Linked DNA regions of Homo sapiens. The protein of the gene in region 1 interacts with the protein of each later gene in a pairwise test. Each region holds a gene or a part of one and is shown in the gene's direction. Other genes may lie near its edges.

What was found.
Region 2: the proteins of CD93 (region 1) and ARHGAP15 interact in a two-hybrid assay, tested with the Homo sapiens proteins (one study listed by BioGRID).

What each region holds. Positions count from the first base shown.
Region 1 is NC_000020.11:23,078,573-23,081,972, reverse strand, and holds the end of CD93 (complement component C1q receptor precursor), read left to right. Parts: 3' UTR 1-2,613; downstream 2,614-3,400. UniProt on the Homo sapiens protein: Cell surface receptor that plays a role in various physiological processes including inflammation, phagocytosis, and cell adhesion.
Region 2 is NC_000002.12:143,132,132-143,139,441, forward strand, and holds part of ARHGAP15 (rho GTPase-activating protein 15), read left to right. Parts: intron 1-7,310. UniProt on the Homo sapiens protein: GTPase activator for the Rho-type GTPases by converting them to an inactive GDP-bound state. Has activity toward RAC1. Overexpression results in an increase in actin stress fibers and cell contraction.

The sequences.
Region 1 (3,400 bases):
CTGGCCATTCAGAGGATTCTAAAGACATGGCTGGATGCGCTGCTGACCAACATCAGCACTTAAATAAATGCAAATGCAACATTTCTCCCTCTGGGCCTTGAAAATCCTTGCCCTTATCATTTGGGGTGAAGGAGACATTTCTGTCCTTGGCTTCCCACAGCCCCAACGCAGTCTGTGTATGATTCCTGGGATCCAACGAGCCCTCCTATTTTCACAGTGTTCTGATTGCTCTCACAGCCCAGGCCCATCGTCTGTTCTCTGAATGCAGCCCTGTTCTCAACAACAGGGAGGTCATGGAACCCCTCTGTGGAACCCACAAGGGGAGAAATGGGTGATAAAGAATCCAGTTCCTCAAAACCTTCCCTGGCAGGCTGGGTCCCTCTCCTGCTGGGTGGTGCTTTCTCTTGCACACCACTCCCACCACGGGGGGAGAGCCAGCAACCCAACCAGACAGCTCAGGTTGTGCATCTGATGGAAACCACTGGGCTCAAACACGTGCTTTATTCTCCTGTTTATTTTTGCTGTTACTTTGAAGCATGGAAATTCTTGTTTGGGGGATCTTGGGGCTACAGTAGTGGGTAAACAAATGCCCACCGGCCAAGAGGCCATTAACAAATCGTCCTTGTCCTGAGGGGCCCCAGCTTGCTCGGGCGTGGCACAGTGGGGAATCCAAGGGTCACAGTATGGGGAGAGGTGCACCCTGCCACCTGCTAACTTCTCGCTAGACACAGTGTTTCTGCCCAGGTGACCTGTTCAGCAGCAGAACAAGCCAGGGCCATGGGGACGGGGGAAGTTTTCACTTGGAGATGGACACCAAGACAATGAAGATTTGTTGTCCAAATAGGTCAATAATTCTGGGAGACTCTTGGAAAAAACTGAATATATTCAGGACCAACTCTCTCCCTCCCCTCATCCCACATCTCAAAGCAGACAATGTAAAGAGAGAACATCTCACACACCCAGCTCGCCATGCCTACTCATTCCTGAATTTCAGGTGCCATCACTGCTCTTTCTTTCTTCTTTGTCATTTGAGAAAGGATGCAGGAGGACAATTCCCACAGATAATCTGAGGAATGCAGAAAAACCAGGGCAGGACAGTTATCGACAATGCATTAGAACTTGGTGAGCATCCTCTGTAGAGGGACTCCACCCCTGCTCAACAGCTTGGCTTCCAGGCAAGACCAACCACATCTGGTCTCTGCCTTCGGTGGCCCACACACCTAAGCGTCATCGTCATTGCCATAGCATCATGATGCAACACATCTACGTGTAGCACTACGACGTTATGTTTGGGTAATGTGGGGATGAACTGCATGAGGCTCTGATTAAGGATGTGGGGAAGTGGGCTGCGGTCACTGTCGGCCTTGCAAGGCCACCTGGAGGCCTGTCTGTTAGCCAGTGGTGGAGGAGCAAGGCTTCAGGAAGGGCCAGCCACATGCCATCTTCCCTGCGATCAGGCAAAAAAGTGGAATTAAAAAGTCAAACCTTTATATGCATGTGTTATGTCCATTTTGCAGGATGAACTGAGTTTAAAAGAATTTTTTTTTCTCTTCAAGTTGCTTTGTCTTTTCCATCCTCATCACAAGCCCTTGTTTGAGTGTCTTATCCCTGAGCAATCTTTCGATGGATGGAGATGATCATTAGGTACTTTTGTTTCAACCTTTATTCCTGTAAATATTTCTGTGAAAACTAGGAGAACAGAGATGAGATTTGACAAAAAAAAATTGAATTAAAAATAACACAGTCTTTTTAAAACTAACATAGGAAAGCCTTTCCTATTATTTCTCTTCTTAGCTTCTCCATTGTCTAAATCAGGAAAACAGGAAAACACAGCTTTCTAGCAGCTGCAAAATGGTTTAATGCCCCCTACATATTTCCATCACCTTGAACAATAGCTTTAGCTTGGGAATCTGAGATATGATCCCAGAAAACATCTGTCTCTACTTCGGCTGCAAAACCCATGGTTTAAATCTATATGGTTTGTGCATTTTCTCAACTAAAAATAGAGATGATAATCCGAATTCTCCATATATTCACTAATCAAAGACACTATTTTCATACTAGATTCCTGAGACAAATACTCACTGAAGGGCTTGTTTAAAAATAAATTGTGTTTTGGTCTGTTCTTGTAGATAATGCCCTTCTATTTTAGGTAGAAGCTCTGGAATCCCTTTATTGTGCTGTTGCTCTTATCTGCAAGGTGGCAAGCAGTTCTTTTCAGCAGATTTTGCCCACTATTCCTCTGAGCTGAAGTTCTTTGCATAGATTTGGCTTAAGCTTGAATTAGATCCCTGCAAAGGCTTGCTCTGTGATGTCAGATGTAATTGTAAATGTCAGTAATCACTTCATGAATGCTAAATGAGAATGTAAGTATTTTTAAATGTGTGTATTTCAAATTTGTTTGACTAATTCTGGAATTACAAGATTTCTATGCAGGATTTACCTTCATCCTGTGCATGTTTCCCAAACTGTGAGGAGGGAAGGCTCAGAGATCGAGCTTCTCCTCTGAGTTCTAACAAAATGGTGCTTTGAGGGTCAGCCTTTAGGAAGGTGCAGCTTTGTTGTCCTTTGAGCTTTCTGTTATGTGCCTATCCTAATAAACTCTTAAACACATTGATTGTGAACTTGTTTTAATATATTTCACGACAACTCGAAATACCTGGCAGAACTTGCTTTCAAGGTCATTACATTTATCCATCTCCCCTTTCAAAGAGTTGCTAAAAAGAAGGTACCTTGTGGCTGAGTTTCTGCACCTGCACCTGCTGGAGGCGACAGGGGGCGCTGGGCTCTGCCTTCCTTCATTACCTCAGCAAATGTGTACCCTGCCCCTCAGCGTGCTGCCCTTGGGGACATGGAATACAGAGGGCTGGGCTGCACTGCGCCCAGTGTCCATGGCAGCTGAGTCCACTCATCCATGGCCCCCTCATCACTCTTTAATTCTCTGCATCTTGTAAATTACATGGGTGATGCCTGGCGCAGAATTAAACATGTCCAATGGATGCGATGTGAAAACACTGTTCTATAATTATCATTGGAGCATTTATCACTACTTTGTCAGCAAAGCCCTTTCAGTTTATTTAACTAATTGGACAGGCAGATCAGATCGCTGGTTGTTTGGCTGCACAAATCTCATGGTGATTCCAAGTCAGGAACAGCAGATGGTGGTCAATTCTGAGTCAGCCTGCTTTTAAGATTGTGCAAAAGGCTGTGGCAAAGGCACAGGACTTAAGAAGAACAAAGGGTTCTGCTCTGTTATGCTAATGGTACAGGACACTTGCAATAAATATCCATTATTTAGGGTTAAATGCAGCTGATCCTGTTAGAAGTCTATTCATTAACAACATACACTTGGAAATTATTCCTCGATATGAACAACCATGGCTGTTCCCCCAACACACAC
Region 2 (7,310 bases), on another chromosome or scaffold:
TACTAAAAGCATATTTTTTACACTGTACAATAAATGCTACATAATTAGACTTTAAAATGCCCTTGTAAGTATTCTAAATTTGAGCTTAGAGTGTGCAAAACTTCTTTGTTGGCAAACGATAGAAAATGAGTTCAAACTAGCCTAGGCAAAAGAGATATTCTTTTATGTGTGAAAAGTCTAAGGATAGCAAAGTCAGGAATGGCTGGATCCAGGAGCTCACACAGGATTATCAGGAGTAGGTCTCATTTTTTTCATTCCTCAGCTCTTCTTTTCACTATGCTGTAAGCAGTCTCTAGTGGAAGCTCTCACGAAATTGTCAAGCTCCTACTGAGTTGATCCTTTCAGCAAACTGTGGGGAAAGAATGCTTTTCCCCAGTCACCACAGCAAAGTGTCAGATTTAGATCTGATGGGACTGAATTGGATCACATGACCATAGCTGAACAATTACTGAACTTGGGTGCAGACAGCATGCGTGACCATGCCTAGCTCACAGGCCCACTCCTGCACTGGGGGCAGCTACAGCTGCAGCACTTGGGCTCTCTGCTAAAAAGAGGGGTCTCCTGATGTAGAAATTAAAATGCTTTCCCCAGAAGAAAGGACAAAAGCCTCAAAATTCTACTACGGAGTCACGTATGGTCACATTTTAAACAGTCATTATTTCCCAACTTCTTCAAATTCCATAATTGTACAAAAATACAGTTTTAATTGAAAGGCGGATCTGATTGAAACATGAGTTTGAATTAAACTAAATTTTAAAATATTTTTCAACAGCTACTGTATGTTTGACAACTCCTCACAACATTTGCCTTCTAAAAGCTTATAATCCAGAGTGACTATTATTTTAATAATTATGATGCAAATACAATTTGTCAAGTACCATAAGAAGATACAGAGAATGCTCTATTAGAGTTCAGAAATTCATCCAGCATTTTTGCATTCCTGTTATTTGCCGAGCCATAAACTAGAGAATTTTGTAAGTGTTGTATCATCTGATCACATACTTTCAGGGAGTTCTGGACAGTTTTGGAGGAAAGTTTTGTGGTAGTTTTCAGGGAAATCTAGCACTGGGAAGATGAGAAACATTGCAAGGGACAGGAAGGAAATATGTCAAGGCACAAAAACACGGCGTGTCAGAGAATTCCAAAGTAGTGTGAATTCTCCAGTTTTGTTAGACAGAAGTATAGTAATAAGAGGTAGGCCAGAAAGATAGTGTGAGATCATAAATAGAGTAGACCTGGATATAAGTAACAGCAGGGTTTTTGAGCAGGGGAGATACGTAATTGGATGTCCACACTTTTACATCTTGATGGGTTGTCTGTCTAGGGTCAGGATGTATTTGTTTCTTCCATTTATCTCACTGTGAAGTGACATTTTCTTTGCAGAAGAGTTTGAAGTCAGTGGAGATATTTCTGTAAGGACAGGCACTGACTTACCTGTTCAGGTGCCTGAGGTTCTTATTCAAGTTATGGTTATAACAATCTTTTTTTTCATTTGATGAAGGCCTTTTGTTTGTTTTGTTTGCTTTTAATTTAAGAATAGATGATATAGTGAGATGGTTCAAAATCAATATAAAACCAAAACACAATGTTTTTAGATAAGCTATTTCTTATATTTTTATTTCTATCTATCCCATTTATCCCCATCTTAATCCAACGTAACCACTTTTCATGTTTAATATATATATTTATACTTCACAGTTTATGTAAAAACCATATATATATGCACATCTATGTGTGTATGTATATAACATAACTGCACGCACCTCTCCACTTTGCTTTTTTTCTTTTAGAAATATAGATTAGAGATATTTTATAACAAAACTAAGGAACTAATTCTCTTTTTTACAGCTGTATACTATTCCACTATATGGAAATATCATACTTAATTTAACCAGCCTCCTGTAAAAAGAGTGATGGATGTTTTCAAGTTTTTCTAATTCAATGAATGTCCATGTAATTGTTTCTATTTGAAAATCTATCTATCTATCTATCTATCTATCTATCTATCTATCTATCTATCTACCTATCTATCTATCATCTATCTATCTATCATCTATCTATCTACCTATCTATCTATCACACATTTCCAGAAATAACATTTATGAGACAAAGGATAAAATAATTTTGATAGTTGTTGCCAAACTATCCTTCATGTTATTTGTAACTTTTTGAACTTCCACCAGCACTTAATGAGAATGCTTGCAGAAGCTTCATTGCTTTTTCAAGGGATTGTGTTGCCAAGCTTTGCAGGTTTTGCCAGTCTCTAACAACTGCATCTCAACACAGTTTTATTGATATTTCTGCTATTATGGTTAAAATTGATCTTCTTTTTAAAAGATTAAAGGTCGATTTGCTTTCCTTGTAAGAAAATGTATTCTTTCTCAGCTGTATAACTAAAGACCAAAACATTAGTGACTTTAGTGACACTCAAGCCTTGGAGTGAGATGTCAAAGGAAGCAAAGAACTAGAGATAGCATATATGAAATGCTGTATTCCTTTTCTTTTTTTTTTTTTTTTTTTTGAGACGGAGTCTCACTCTGTCACCCAAGCTGGAGTGCAGTGGTGCAATCTCGGCTCACTGCAAGCTCGGCCTCCCGGGTTCATGCCAGTCTCCTGCCTCAGCCTCCTGAGTAGCTGGGACTACAGGTGCCTGCCACCAAGCCCAGCTAATTTTTTTTTGTATTTTTAGTAGAGTCGGGGTTTCACGGTGTTAGCCAGGATGGTGTCGATCTCCTGACCTCGTGATCTGCCCACCTTGACCTCCCAAAGTGCTGGGATTACAGGCGTGAGAGCGCGCCCAGCCTAAATGCTGTATTCCTTTTCTAAAGCTTGAAATAGACAGTAGCTTAAAAGGGGGATAAAATATGAATGTTCAAGTGAAGGAGGAGAAAAGGAATGAAAATAAAGGAACCCAACAAGGTCTCAGAGGAGACTAAGACAGATGGGTATAATCACTGGCTCAAGTAGATGAATTAACCTTAAACAGAAGAGAGAGCACTTTAATGAGCGTGAATGCAGATGAATTGGATATAAGTAAGATTCAGTGAGGAGAGGAATTTGAGGGAATACATGCTTCATAGTTTCTATCTTTGCCTAAATGGTGGGAAAGTTCATCTGATGAAAGCATTTTCTGCATGTCAAAAACTAGACAGAATATCTTATTTTAAAACTTATCCTTGTCAGTAACACACAATACAATTGTGGATTTTGCAACTTATTTTTTATCTTTTGCTGGTTATTAGTCCAATTCCATTCAACTCCATAAATAATTTTGAACTCTAAGTATACTATGTTGTCCTAAGGATTGCTGGAGATACAAAGAAATAGATATGCTACTTAGCCAATGAAAACTGTTTAGTAGGTAAGAGGTACACAAAGATAAGTATCTAAATATCAATTATACATATAAGTCCAGTGCCATAGAAATATTATAGAATATACCATTGACAGAATCCCAAAGGTCTTCATTTTGCCAAATCTAATAGCCATTTATGTATCTTTATATTATTCACTGTCTGAGCTGCATTTGATGCTATCGAACCCTCCTTCCCTCTTGAAACTCTCTTTTCATTTGACTTCTGGAATACTTTTTTCTTCCAGTTTTCCTCCAAACTACCTGAATGCTCTTTCTGTATCCTTTGCTAACACTTTCTCATCATCTAGCTCTCTAAATGTTGGAATGTCCTGAGATCAGTCTTTGGATTTCTACTTGTCTTCTAGGTTTATTCCTTTGCGGTTTTATTTAGTTTCATGACCTTAAATGTTATCTATATACTAATTATATTTCAAGACCAAATCTTTTCTCTTAGCAGTAAAACTATAAATCCAATTGCCCATTCATCATCTCCACTTGAGTGTCTCATAGAGACATCAAAGTGAGTATACAGTACTCAAAGCAAATCTCCTAATTACTGCCCACCTGTCCCCCAACCCAGCCTGCTTCTTTCCTTTTTGCCTCCACCTTAGTTAATGACACCATATTAATCTCTCTTTTCAGGACAAGAGTCTAAGAATTATCCTTGATTCTACTCTTTCCCTACTACTTCCTACCCAAAGTTTCATCTAGTTTATCAGCAATAAGTAGAGCCTGTAAAATATAAACTTACTTTTCATTATACTGTTCACGTGACTTTTCTCAATAATGGCCCTTAAGGTGTTATATCTTTTTTTTTTCAGTCTAATACTTCTTTTATTTTTTATTTTTTTGGTTGTCAATACAATGACTTTTCTAAAAAAATCTTGCCAAGTGAATACAGCACAACATGACACTTGGATGAACATCAAACTTTAGATAAAACACACACACCAATTTACTCTCTGCTTTCAAGTTAGAATAACAAGAAGCATATGAAACAATGTTGATTTGTACATGTTTGAATTAATTCAAGAAGGTTGAAGAGGTGGCAATGTTTACAACCTTTTAGTCAGACTTTTTGTTGGGCCCCCGGCTCCAGGTGACTCCTGTGCTGTAATTTGTTATTAAGTATACTTTGAGGGCATGAAAACCGTTAAGTCTCCCAATCCTTAAAAATATTACTGAAGAAAAAGATATGGAAAGAGAAAATGTAATAAATAAAAACTCCTTTTATATTACATTTTGTTTACAATTTGTCTTCTTTCAAATTGTTGCTATTATGTACTTGAATCCTTTTTTGAGGTTCTATTGATATACTTTTATACTTATAAGTGATGATTGGAAATCTTAGGCTCTTATTGAATAACTTTGTATTTCACGGGAATGAATTAGATATTAAGCAAGAGGTATAGGTACATCAGAATATCTTGAATTCAATCACTTCTTTCCACTTCCACTGCTGTTATTGCAGAATTCTCCTGACTCTCCTCCCTGCTTCTATCTTCCCCACAATAGTCATTGTCCAAGGAGTAGACAGAGTGGCCATTTTAAGAGTTCAACCATGCAAACTCTTTTAATATAATATTCCAAATGACTATTATACTTCAAATTAGATTCAATCTCCTTTCATGATTTGCAAGGACCTCGTTATCTCATTACTCTGCTTTTGTTTTCCTTCATATTAGTTTGGCTATGGAATTTATTATTTATTTTTCAGTGTTTAGTGGCTATTTTCACCTTAGAATGTGTGGTCCATGGGAGTATTGACCTCGCCTGTCTTTTTACTGCTAAATACCTAGAACCTAGAACAAATGGTAGGTGTATGATAATATCAATAAATATTTGTTTAGTGAAAGGATAAATGCCATAAAGATTGACTTTGGGCTGTAGAATCAAGGAAGACAATCTGGAGATGTGTGAATTTTCCTGGTCTAAAATATAGGGTAATTTAGGAGAAGAGAAGCTAGAAATATATTTCAAATAAAAGACACTATATGTACTATATATATGGTACAGTTTTAGTAAGTTGGCAGTGATGAAAGGTTGGGTTTGAATTCTGTATCCATTATATGCTTCTGAAAAATGGAACAAATAACCCACCAGCTGAAAACATATTGCCATAAACTGATGAGAAAGAGCAACTACCTCTAAGTATTTAAATTTTAAGCAATTTTACTAAAACCATGGTATTAAAATTGACTAATTTTATGTTCACTTTAAATCCATTTCCTAAAAGAGTCAAAACAGAACATCTCTTTAAAAGAGCTATGGAAGGTAGAATGCTCAGGAAATTGGATGCTGAGTCAAGGGAAACTTCCGTTTCTGTTCATTTATCTTTCTGCTTTAGTTAATTTCATGTTAGAATTTTAAAGACTAGAAACTGAGCAATGGAACCCAAATTCAGCTCTCTGCTAAATGCACTGGGGAAATCAAGTAATCTGAGCTTCTGTATAATATCACCTATTCATACTTTGATGGTTCTCCTAAAGTAGAACATTAAAGGAAAAAATGTATGGTGATTACCTCAGTGGTGTCTCAAGCACTGTGGTAAGTACTATAGTTGTTACCAAAACTAGACAATATTAACTTATTCTCAAGATGTTTACAGTTGCTTGAGAAATTCATCAATATAAATTATTAGAGTGAGATTCTTAATAATTATCATCATAGCTATGACTTACTCTGTGTAGATTATGGGACAAGAATTTTGCATGCATAATTGCATTTGGTATCCACAAAAATCATGTAAAGGAATTTGTATCCCCATTTTAAAGATAAGGAAGCTAAGGTTAAGAGATTAAATATGCAAATTTACAAAGCTTCTCGGTAGGCTGGGTCATGAGTTGTACATAGATCTGGGTAATGCAAAGTCCATGTTATTTTCAGTATGCCATGCGATAATTTTGAAGCCTGTTAAGTGTTAGCAGTTAAGCAATGCTGAACTTTATTCATGAGGCCCTAGAGTCTAAAAGGCTCTAAAAGAATCCTACTTTGTTTGATGTCTAAAGCAATGCCATCTGTAGGAAACCTGTTGTTTCTTCTCTGCAAATATTGCCTATGCAGAAGTGTTGTAAAACTTGTGAGGAAGAAAACGTTCTTTTGCCTTGGTTTTTGCCATACTGCAGGTGTCTTTCCTCTTTCTCTTTTTCTGGTCTCCTCTGGATTCTATGTCTCCCCCTGGCTCTTAATTCTCAAAAATTCCTTCTTAGATCCACCTATCCAATACGGTAGCAACTAGCACAAGTGACTATTGAGCACTTGAAGAAGGGCTAGTATGAATTAAGTGTAAAATAAACACCAGATTTTGAAGACATAGTACAAATAACGAAAATGTAAAATAATTAATATTTTGGCATTTAATCATGCTCCATTGATTATATTTCGAAGTATTGGGTTAAATAAAATTATTAAAATTAATTTCACTTATCTCATTTAACTTTTCCAATGTGGCTACAGGAAATTTTTAAACTACATGTGTGTGGCTCATATTATATTTCTAATGGATGCCACGGCTCTAAACCATCTTCTTTTTGGTCTCTCTTTTGACGTTCTTATAATTTCAATTTCATTCCTCAAATACGGTCCTTAAATTTCTATCTTTAGCCTTGGTGTCTCTGTCAAAATTGTTCCTTATTTCTAATTGTCACTTGATACTTCCTCTATGATATCCCATCAGCAGGTTAAACTGATTATGTCCCACATTAAATCCATGGCCTCTCCCAAGGGTTATTTTTGCCTTCCTTCCAATTTCGATTACATCTCTACTCCTGAAGTCATATTATTAAGGGACATGATATCATCCATATCATGTATTCCATACCACTTATTCCATACATCCAATCAATTGCCATACTCAAGCAGCATTTATTCCTTTCTTTCCGTTTGCACGTATCATCATGGTCACTATTGGTCATCTATTGAGTCTTGTCTAGATTATGGCAAAAGAGTCTCAGGC